Linked DNA regions of Homo sapiens. The protein of the gene in region 3 interacts with the protein of the main gene of each other region in a biochemical or structural test. Each region holds a gene or a part of one and is shown on either strand. Other genes may lie near its edges. The genes, in order: LEP, KLK13 and A2M.

What was found.
Region 1: the proteins of A2M (region 3) and LEP form a complex in vitro, tested with the Homo sapiens proteins (one study listed by BioGRID).
Region 2: the proteins of A2M (region 3) and KLK13 form a complex in vitro, tested with the Homo sapiens proteins (one study listed by BioGRID).

Annotation. Positions count from the first base shown.
Region 1 is NC_000007.14:128,244,221-128,247,875, reverse strand, and holds part of LEP (leptin precursor), read right to left. Parts: intron 1-3,655. UniProt on the Homo sapiens protein: Key player in the regulation of energy balance and body weight control. Once released into the circulation, has central and peripheral effects by binding LEPR, found in many tissues, which results in the activation of several major signaling pathways.
Region 2 is NC_000019.10:51,055,012-51,058,650, reverse strand, and holds the end of KLK13 (kallikrein-13 isoform 1 precursor), read left to right. Parts: coding exon 1-113; intron 114-1,875; coding exon 1,876-2,064; 3' UTR 2,065-3,025; downstream 3,026-3,639.
Region 3 is NC_000012.12:9,102,368-9,106,022, forward strand, and holds part of A2M (alpha-2-macroglobulin isoform a precursor), read right to left. Parts: intron 2,034-3,655; coding exon 1,872-2,033; intron 1-1,871. UniProt on the Homo sapiens protein: Is able to inhibit all four classes of proteinases by a unique 'trapping' mechanism. This protein has a peptide stretch, called the 'bait region' which contains specific cleavage sites for different proteinases.

The DNA.
Region 1 (3,655 bases), on a different chromosome or scaffold from region 3:
CCTAGGAAAGTGGCTAACCTCTCTGGGACTCAGTTTTCCTGGCTATCAGATGGGGATGATATGAATCATAATGCCACCTGTCGATGTTATGTGGCTGAAATGAGATAAAGCATGTAAAGTGCCAACTCCTTGCCTGGCACGTAGCCAACCCCAATGCCTTAGCTGTTATCACCATTATTTCCAGCAGGGGAATCAGGGAGGCATCATGGAGGAGATGGCATTTGATAAGGGACCTGAGAATGGGTAGGAATTGAGTTTGTGAAGGTGGAGGAGAGGGCAGCCCTGGCAGAGGTGGAAGAACACAGGTGGGTTTAGGAGATGGTGGCTTCCAGCTGACACCAGGGTGAGGAGCCGGGGAGGGCTTGGGCTGGAATCGCAGGGGCAGTGAGCACCAGGAAGGGAGGCAAAGCTTTCCCTTCTGCACCCTGAGGAGCAAATGTTTTCAGCCTGGCTGACTAGAAGGATGGAGATGGAAACTAGGAGAGACATGAGGAGAGATTTTGGAAAGAGGTGGTTGGGCTCCTGCTGATGTCCTAGTACTGGCTGGACATGCTGGTGAGCCTGCCCAGCTGCCGCTTGGAATTGGAAGTCTGAGCTCAGAGACAAAGGGCTGCAAATGTAGGACCCAGGGGCCCGCTGCAGCTGTGGCAGGAGAGCATGGGGAGAGCATGGGTTGGGGTGGAAGAAAGGCCGCGATCAGCTGTCTGCCTGAGCTGCAAAACCTCTCTCCAGAAGTTTCCAAAGCAGTTTTGAACATTTAGGAGCTGCCATTTTCTTAGAGTTAAAAGATGAGCTGCTGAAATGTTGATACAGCATCATTCTTTCCTCTGAGTGCTACTGAAGCAGCTCCTGGAGAGGAGAGGGGTCTCTAGGAAGATGGTGGGCTCACAGTGGGCTGTATGCTCATTTGGGACGCAGCCTGCACTCTGCTGTCTCCCTCATGGCCCACTTCTCTCTGCACTCCCTGGGCTGCCCTCTCCACAGGCTGCCTTCCTTCTCCTTTAATCAAGGCCTGGCTGCCCCATCTTCTACCCTCATCCCTTGCCATGGGTACCCTGGAGAAGAAATGAGAAGAGTAGAATGTGGAGCCCCTGGAGCTGCACAGATGAAATGTGGCTGGGTGTGGTGGCTCAGCCTATAATCCCAGGGCTTTGGGAGGCCAAGGCAGGAGGATCGCTTGAGCCCAGGAGTTCAAGACCAGCCTGGGCGACACAGCAAGACCCCATCTCTAAAAAAAATAAAAATAAAAATAAAAATAGCTGAGTGTGGTGGCAAACGCTTGTGGTCCCAGCTACTTGGGAGGCCAAGGTGGGAGGTTTGCCTGAGCCCAGGATGTCGAGGCTGCAGTGAGGTATGATCACACAGTGCACTCCAGCCTGTGTGACACAGCAAGACCCCATCTCTTAAAAACAAAAGCCAAAAAAGATAATGAAACAATCTCAGTAAACAGGGCAGCAAGAGAGGCTTATATAATGTGCCATCCACCCCACCACAAATTCTGCTGTCTACCTCCACCTGGGTCCTCTGCACCAGCCTCACTGTTACTTATCCTCAGGTGGACCCCACCCCCATCCTCACTTGGCAGTTGTGTGCAGGGCCCGCACCCCACCCTCCACCTCCTACCTCCCTAAGAAGCTGGTGGCCTCTAGACTTGAGCTCCATCACCTTCCCACCATTGCAGGGGACAAGGCAGATGGAGGCAGACCCTCCATCCTGGGGACCTCAATGTCAAAGTGGGAGTTAGGATGGGCAGAGATGTGTGCTCCTCTTTATTTTTTTTATTTTTTTATTTTTTTATTTTTTTTTTGACGGAGTCTTGCTCTGTTGCCCAGGCTAGAGTGCAGTGGCGTGACCTCGGCTCACTGCAACCTCCGCCTCCCGGGTTCAAGCGATTCTCCTGCCTCAGCCTCCTCAGCCTCCCGGGTAGCTGGAAATACAGGCGCCCACCACCGCACCTGGCTAATTTTTGTATTTTTAGTAGAGACGAGGCTTCACCATCTTGGCCAGGCTGGTCTCAAACTCCTGACCTCGTGATCCACCCGCCTCGGCCTCCCAAAATGCTGGGATTACAGGCATGAGCCACCGAGCCTGGCCCATCTGCTGCTCTTTAGATCCAGGCTGGAGGGCCTCCTGAGCCAAGATTAGGCCTGCCCACAGCCCTCTGATGACATCAATGGGGAGAACAAAGCGAGTCTTTTGTATGCTACTGTGAATTAAATTCAGGTAACATGGTATTTGCTATTAATTATGAGGGAAAAGCTTTAGCTAGTCTGAGTCCTCTCCCTATACACATTCTCCTGTGGGATCCCCTCCTGTTCTTCCCTCCCACCCTTCCTTCCTTCCTTTCTTCATAACTCCAAGTTGGAAGGGACTTGGGGATGAGAAAAGAACAAAGGAGGAAATAAAGGCAGCGAAGTTTGGATCTTCGTTCTCCAAGTTGCTCAGAATCTAGTGGAACAGACAGGACCTTGAACAACTCATTTTAACACAACCTGGTGGGAGTTATGAGGGAAGAAGCATAGAACCCAAAGAACAAAGGGGAAGAGGGACTCCGGGGATGGGAGGAGAGCTTTGCAAGGGAGGCAGTGTGTGAACTGAGGCCTGAAGGACAGGCGTTCCCCAGGGGAAAGAGGGGAAGCAGGGCATTCCAGGCCAAGCTCCGGAGTTAGGGAAAGCCATAGTTGGTTTGGGAAGATTCAATATGGTAGAGGGGTGGAGTGTGTGAGGCTGGAGAGCTAAAATTTTGCGGGCTTAAGTCTGTTTAGTAGGGACCTCCTGGGAGATCTAACCTACCCAAGAGACACACATACACACACACAGACACACACACACACATACACAACCCTTGATGGCTATGTTTGCATTTACACTCCAGCCCCCTTGGCTACAATTGCCTGGCCAGTGGTAGGCAAGAGACGAAGAGGCTCTTCTCTCCTCCCTTTCCTCCTCCCTTCCTTCTCCTGACCCTGATTGGGTCAATCAACTTCTCTCTTAGGAATTTAGAGTGGGGCTGCAGAGAGTCCAGTTCATCTCTGTTGAGGGCTCAGAAGCTCTAGGGTAGCCACATTTGGCCTCATATGCATGGAACAGCTGAGAGAGACCAGAGCCCACATAGCCACTGAGCCAGAGTATGGTCACCGCCTGTGCTCCTTCCTAGCCTTCTTTGTGGTTCCTGGGTCCTCGTGAGGCCTGGTGGCCCTCCCTGTCCTTAGCCTTCAGGGTGAGATACTCTTTTCTTATACTCACTTGGATAGCTTTCAACTTTCTAAATATATTTTTCATTTGAGACAGATAGATACATGTAAGAGAAATAAGTGTCAAGAAGTAAAATTCACCCTTACCGTGGGTAATGCACTCTTGAGAGTCTCGGCTCTTTTTTCAAATGTTGATCACAATAAACAATTTGAAAAACACAGGGCCAGCGTGAGTGATTTTCTCTTATTTGCAACCAAAAGCCTCATTTGAGAAATCGTGTTAACATATGTAACCAGCAGAGAGGGTGTGAGTACAGGGGTTACATTCTTTCTGTTCATCAGAAAGATCTGATCTCATCAGAGATACAGATAGGTTTCTACTCCTGTTTCAGCTCTAATCTGTGTGTGTGTGTGTGTGTGTGTGTGTGTGTGTGTCAGGGTCTTGCTCTGTCACTCAGGCT
Region 2 (3,639 bases), on a different chromosome or scaffold from region 3:
GTGCCAACATCCAACTTCGCTCAGATGAGGAGTGTCGTCAAGTCTACCCAGGAAAGATCACTGACAACATGTTGTGTGCCGGCACAAAAGAGGGTGGCAAAGACTCCTGTGAGGTGAGGCCGGGAGGCTGGTGGGTGCCTTGGACAGGATAGAAAGCCAGAATGGAAGTGACAGATGCTGGGGAAAAAGCTTTGTTTCCAGCCTTAGGGGAACCAATCTTTATAAGATACAATGTCCCCTCACATAGGAGGTCAAGACAAAAAGGGGTACCCAGGGATGGCAGGAATAATTCATCATAAGCCCCAGCTTTGACTGAGTGGCTGCCAAGATCCCTGTGTTGAGATGCATAAAGGTTGGTATTCTTTCACTTGTGAGTGATAGACAACCAACTCAAACTGGCTTAAACAAAATGCAGGCTTTTGTAACTGAAAATCCAGGTTGTCTGGCTTTAGGCACAGATGGATCCAGGTATGCAAATTGTGTGTTTGGAATTCTGTCTTTCTTTTAACTCTCAGCTCTTCTTTATTCTGTTTTGGCTTCATTCTCGGTTAGATTCTTCCCATGACAAGATGGCCCCAGCAGCTTTGAGCTTACATCCTACCCTCTAGGCAACCCTATTAGAAAGAGAACCTCTCTTTTCCAATAGTTCACACAAAAGTCTTAAGCATGATTCTCACTAGGCTGACCTAAGTCATGTGTCTTGAGCCATCACTCCACCAGAGCTGTGGGATTCTCTGATGGGCCAAGCCTGAGTCACATAGTTAACTGTGGGTGCTGGAGAGGGGCAGGGACAAACTGCATGGATTGGAAGTGGAGAAGGGCAGTTCCCCAAATGAAAAAATCAGGAGAGGCTGTTACCAAAATAAGGGGAAATGGCCAAGTACAGTAGTTCATGCCTGTAATCCCAGCACTTTGGGAGGCTGAGGTGAGAGGATTACTTGAGCCCAGGAGTTTGAGACCAGCCTGGGCAACATAGTGAGACTCTGTCTCTACAAAAAGAAAAAAAAGTTTTTAAATTAGCCAGGTGTGGTGGAGTACAACTGCAGTCCTAGTTACTCGGGAGGCTGAGGCAGAAGGACTATTTGAACCCAGGAGTTCAAGGCTGCAGTGAGGTATGATCATGCCACTGCACTCCAGCCTGGGTGATAGAGCAAGGCCCTGTCTCTAAAACAAAAAGAAATAAATAGAGCAAGACACTGTCTCTAATAAATAAATAAATAAAAATTTAAAAATGAATGTTTAATTTTTTAAAAATAAGAGGAAATGGATACTACATGAGCAAAAAATAGCCTTCATCAATAAAGAAGTTGAGATTGGATTCAGTGAGAAAGAGTATGATACTATATTAATGATATGTGCCTTGATCGATTAGTGATGTCTGCCTTGGGCCCAGGAAGAGAAATAGACTTACACGTGTGTTGCATACCCTGCCCAGATATGAATGGGTTCACTCAATAGTGAGAGACACAAATGAGCCTTAAATAGGAGCAGGGTCAGCTGGTGTGGGGCAGGGGGTGATTTAGTACCAGGGAAACAAAAATGGGTATGAAGTAAGTTGTTACCATTTTAATGAAACTGAGGAACAGAGAAAAACACAGAAATTTCTCTGTGTCTCTCTTTCTCTGGGCCTATCTCTGTCTTTCTGTCCCTATTTCTGTCTCTTGCTGTCTGTCCCTCTGTGTTTGTCTTCTTGTCTGTTTCTCACTGTCTTCATTGCTTTCTCTCACACTGTGTGTGTCTGACTCTGCCTCTCTGAGTCTCCTTCTCTGTGTGTGTCTCTCTCCATCTTTCACTCTCTCCCCACACCTCCCTGTCCCTGCCTTGTTTAGCCCCAGCAAGGACCCACCTCTCTCTCTCTTTCTTTCCCCAACTCAGGGTGACTCTGGGGGCCCCCTGGTCTGTAACAGAACACTGTATGGCATCGTCTCCTGGGGAGACTTCCCATGTGGGCAACCTGACCGGCCTGGTGTCTACACCCGTGTCTCAAGATACGTCCTGTGGATCCGTGAAACAATCCGAAAATATGAAACCCAGCAGCAAAAATGGTTGAAGGGCCCACAATAAAAGTTGAGAAATGTACCGGCTTCCATCCTGTCACCATGACTTCCTCACATGGTCTGCTTAGCCCTTCTCTGCTCCTTATTCCCAGTGTTCCATTTGAACCAGTGATCCATGTCCTGAAAAATGCTCAATCTCAGCTAACATTCCATGTTTCAGAAGCATTCAGGCACTGCCAGGCTTGCAGTCTCCCAGATGTTGCATCCCTGAAACATCTCAACAACCTGAATGTCCCAACCCAGACAATGGCCCAGGTCTCTCAACTTCATCAGTGTGGCTTCTATGAGCCCAGATCACCACCTGAACGTTCTGTCTGTGGCACATTCTTAAATATTTCCATCAGCCCATCTCAACAATATATGTCCTATAAATGGACCATCCTTGACAACATCCTCTAACTCTTCAAGTATTTATTCAATGCCAGTATCCTAGACCTTCTATTTTTTGCACTCAAGAAGGCTCTAGACTCCCATGATAGTTCATCCTGAAAATATTCTCTTATGCCCACAATCTTCTGCCCTGACAACATTCTGTGTACCTCTGTGACTCACCACAGCTAACATTGGATCCTCAGAATATTTCATTCTCACACTGTTATGGGTGTCTCAGAAGTCCCAACCCAACCTACATCCCACATTCTTCCAATACCCCACCTCTGCCAACATTCCCTCTCTGAATCAATGGCACCCTAGTCTCTAGAGTTATAGGGTTCAGTATACCAAAGGGTCTTCTTGCCTGAACTTTATTGTCTACCAAATATTCCGTCTTGTATCCCCTCCATGAACATCCTTGGTCAGTGTCCCTTGCTGTTACATCTTTGTGCATGACCCTAAAATGTAGTGCAAATCCTTGCTTTGGACAAGTTATAAAACTCACAGTCTCTGTGCTTTCTCATCTGTAAAATGGGTTCATAATTTTTTTTAATTGTAACATTATTACAAGAATAAATGTCAAGCATTTATCACTATTATTATTTGCATGGTTCCCATAAAATATTACCTTAGAATGTTAATAACAGCCCTTCGAATTTGCAGAGTGTCCAAAAAAAGTGTTGCACTGATTTATTTTCCTCAGGAGACATTTCTTCAGTGTTGACTATGTGCAAGCACTCTCCTGGGTGTTGTTAAATATAGTTTATTTACTCAACAAATATTTGTACCTATCAAGAGCCAGGCACTGTTGCAGAGACAAGTGATAACCAATGAGTTAAACAGATAAAAACTTCTGCCCTTGTAGAACTTACATTCTTTTCAAGAAGTCTCCATAACAATGAATAAAGAAATAGGCTGTCAGGTGGTGCTGCAAGCCATAGCAAGAAATGAAACAAGGGCCATATGTGGTAGCTCATGCCTGTAATACCAACACTGGGAGGCCAAGGTGGGAGGATCGCTTGACACCAGGAGTTCAAGACCAGCCTGGACAACATAGCAAGATCCCATCTCTACAAAAAAGTTTAAAAAATTAGCTGGACATGGTGGCACAAGTCTGTAGTCCCAGCTAATCAGAAGGCTGAGGCAGGATGATTGCATGAGCCCAGGAGTTTGAGGCTGCAGTGAGCTGTGATTGTGCCAGTACACTCAA
Region 3 (3,655 bases):
CCCCACCCAGCTAATTTTTTGTATATTTTGTAGAGACAGGGTTTCACCACGTTGCCTAGGCTCGTCTCGATCTCCTGGCCTCACGCAATCCACCCACCTCAGCCTCCCAAAGTGCTGGGATTACAGGCGTGAGCTACCGTGCCTGGCCTAGGCTGACTATTTTTAATGCTCCCTGCAATCTGGATTCTAATACCTCAGAGGCCCTATTTGGGTTATATTTCCAACTTTTCTTCCTGTAGAAGTTATTCCTTAGCTCCTTTCAGGCTTCCTCTACCTTCATCCCCAGCTCCCAATAGCACTAGTGAATCCTTGAGCAAAACATTTTGTTCATATCTTAATGTATATTTTGGTGACAACACATATATGATCACCCCAAACAGGGAACAGGTAGAAATAATAATTTCATTGTCAAGACTAGCACAGTGCTGGCACGTGGAAAGCATTCAAGACACTTTTTGAAATGAGTAAACATTCAAATTAGAGGGAGGTGCTTTTATGCCATCTATTAAAGCTAAATAAATAAAATGTATTATTTATTTCTCTATAACAAGGTAAAACTCTAAAGAGGCAGGCGTTTTCCATTACCATGATTATGTAATATATATTAAATATGTATTGTATATCCATGTATCTATAGACATGTCTACATCTCTCTTGATGAATAGAGGACTGCATGCTATACCGAATAACTTATATTGGTATGAACAGGTCATCTGGAGAAAATTAGAATAGCAAGACAAAATAAAGTAAGGTAATAATTTTTGGAGTATATATATTTAAAACTAAATGCTAATTATGTTAGAATTGGCTTTTATAGTAAAAGTATCTAACAGTTAAAGGGGGCTTACTAAGTGATTCAACATGTATGATTTCACTTAATCTTCACAACCACCCCAAGAGTCAGGTGTTAGTATTGCAATCATTTTACAGATAAGGAAATGAAGCACAGAGGTTTTAGTTAATTCCTTAAAATAGGGTTGAGCCAGTATTTTTAACCACTTTATCTGATTCAGATTCTGGAATTCACACTTTTCAAAAAAGTTATTATAAACACACACACACACACAACATAAAATTACCATCTTCATTATTCTTTAGTGTACAGTTTGGTAGTATTAAGTATATCTGTTGTGCAACAGATCTCCAGAACTTTTCATCTTGTAAAACTAAACCTGAATACCAATAAGAGGAATTCCCCATTTCTCTCTTTCCCTAGCCCTTGGCAACCACCATCCTGTTTTCTGTTTCTATGACTTTGACTACTTTAGAAACCCCATGTACGTGAATCATACAGTATTGGTCTTTTTGTGACTAGCTTATTTCACTTACCATAACGTCCTCAAGGATCATTCATGCTGTAGCATGTGACAGGATTTTCTTCCCTTCTCAGGCTGCATAATATTCTGTTGTATTTATATACCACATTTTGTTTACCTGTTCATCCCTTGATGGACATTTGGGTAGCCTCGATCTCTCAGCTATTGTGAATAGTGCGGCTATGAACACGGGTGTGCAAATAGCTCTTTGAGACCCCGTTTTCGATTCTTTTGAATATATGTCCAGAAGTAGGATTACTGGATCATTTGGTAATTCTATTTTTTAATTTTTTCAGGAACTACTATACTGTTTTTCATAGTGGCTCCGCCATTTTACGTTCCCAGCAACACTGCTAAAGTCTAACCCGCACTTTTAATCACAATATACTGCCTTCTTTTCATAAACTTTAAAAAAGTTAACCTTCAATCGGTTTCTAATTGCTAGTTTTTTTCTCTCCATAGAACTAGACACAGTTTGGAAATTTTCTCACCCTTAGGTTGCAACCTTGTTTCCAAGGCTACTTCATGTCATTGGTAATTTCTTTCCAAACTTACCCTAACAGTAAGAGAGGTACCCATAACATTGGTGGTGTTGATAGAGAACTGTACAAGGCCATGCTCATCCGTGGTAGCATTGGAGTAATAGTTTGCTTCATTTCCTCTGATGAATATGACTTTATTTGGTATAGGGACGCCTTTCCCATCTACTAGGCGCACCTGAAGATTAAAAGCTGTGGATTAGTTATATTGGTAATAACTAATAGGCACCAAACATATTCATTTATCACATTTTTTAGTGCCTCCTCTATGTTGAACATGGTTCCAGGCACTGAGGACACAGCAGTGAAAAAAAACGAAGTTTCTTCCATCACAGAGCTTACTGTCTAGTGAAAGAGATAGATGCTAAATAAATATATACATAACATACACTAATTTAGTAGTAATCAATCCTAAGAAGAAAAACAGAGCAGTGTGAAGGGATAGAGAGTGATAGGGATAATAACAAGAGTGACCTGAAAAATGTCTTCTAGATATTTTGGAAGTGCTGTGTATTATTATATATAACTCTTAGAGAGTCACAGAGCACTAGAGTAATATGATAATGAAATATTTTAATCTATTAATCTATTAACTAAATTTATTTGTGCCCCAAACACCTATTTTGGAGTGGACCATTAACTTCCTATAGATTAGTGTCTGAAGTCTCATAAGTGCACAAGTAAACAATTGCCAATACATTGTCCTGTGTGTTTCTCCAGTTGCCTTAGACATGGTCTCTGCTTCTCAACCTAGATCTTCAGCCTTTTGGAAGGTAGGCAGATTTTATGACACACTTCCCATGTGAAAAATATAAAATTGAAAAGAGGCACACAGTATTAAATAAGTTGCCAAATCTAATTTACTGCTAATATTGTATTGGCAGTTGAGTAGTCCAGTTCAGATTGTAAAGGTGGCAATTCTTTTTCAGTATAAGCTACAGTTGGTAGCAGGAAGAACAATAGGCTGACCCCCATCAGTACTCATAATTGATTTACAAAATCTAAGTTTGCCAGTGAAATGTTGGCTGCATGTACAAAGACAAGAATAGGCACATAATTCTGATTTTCTTCTAGCTAGAGAGTCTTATGACAAATAGGATATTTAACAGCAATAAAATGTACTTACAAAGTACACTATCTTTCTGAGAAATTTACAAATGAGCTACACTTTCATTTTAGGAAGTTGAATACATTTTGGTGTCATGACATAACCAAGCCTTCTAGAATGTACTCCACTTTGTTGAGTCTATGCCTCTTTTACACCCTTCATAGCTGAAATCCTGTAACATTTACATTAAGAAAATGATACACAGTAAATACACATTGAGGCACATGTAACTGTGATCTCAGACTTCTAGAGTCATAAAGATCCATTTGCACATCTGCTGACAACAGAAAAATTGTAAGAGAAGATTTTTTTGGTAGATAACATGAAAATTCATAATTCAAAAATCTGAGAACCTTAAATAGCAGTGTTTTACCCCATGTTCACTGTTTTAGAAATATACTTGTTATAGAAAAATAGTGTAAATATACTATCCATGAAATAAACATTATTGTAGAATCTTTAATACTTCAAAATAAAAATTAAAACCACCTACCCACCTGTTTCCATACAAAGTTAGTGTTAGCATCGTAATGAAACTGGTCAGCATGAATTTTGAGATTCTTGTGAGAAAATGTCATAAAAACCTGAGACTGCCTGGTAAACCATGAGAAGGAGATTGAGTGACTTGTACAATGCTGTTTCAAAAGAAGGGGGGAAAACTCTACTAATTTTAATAAGGCCTTAGGATAATT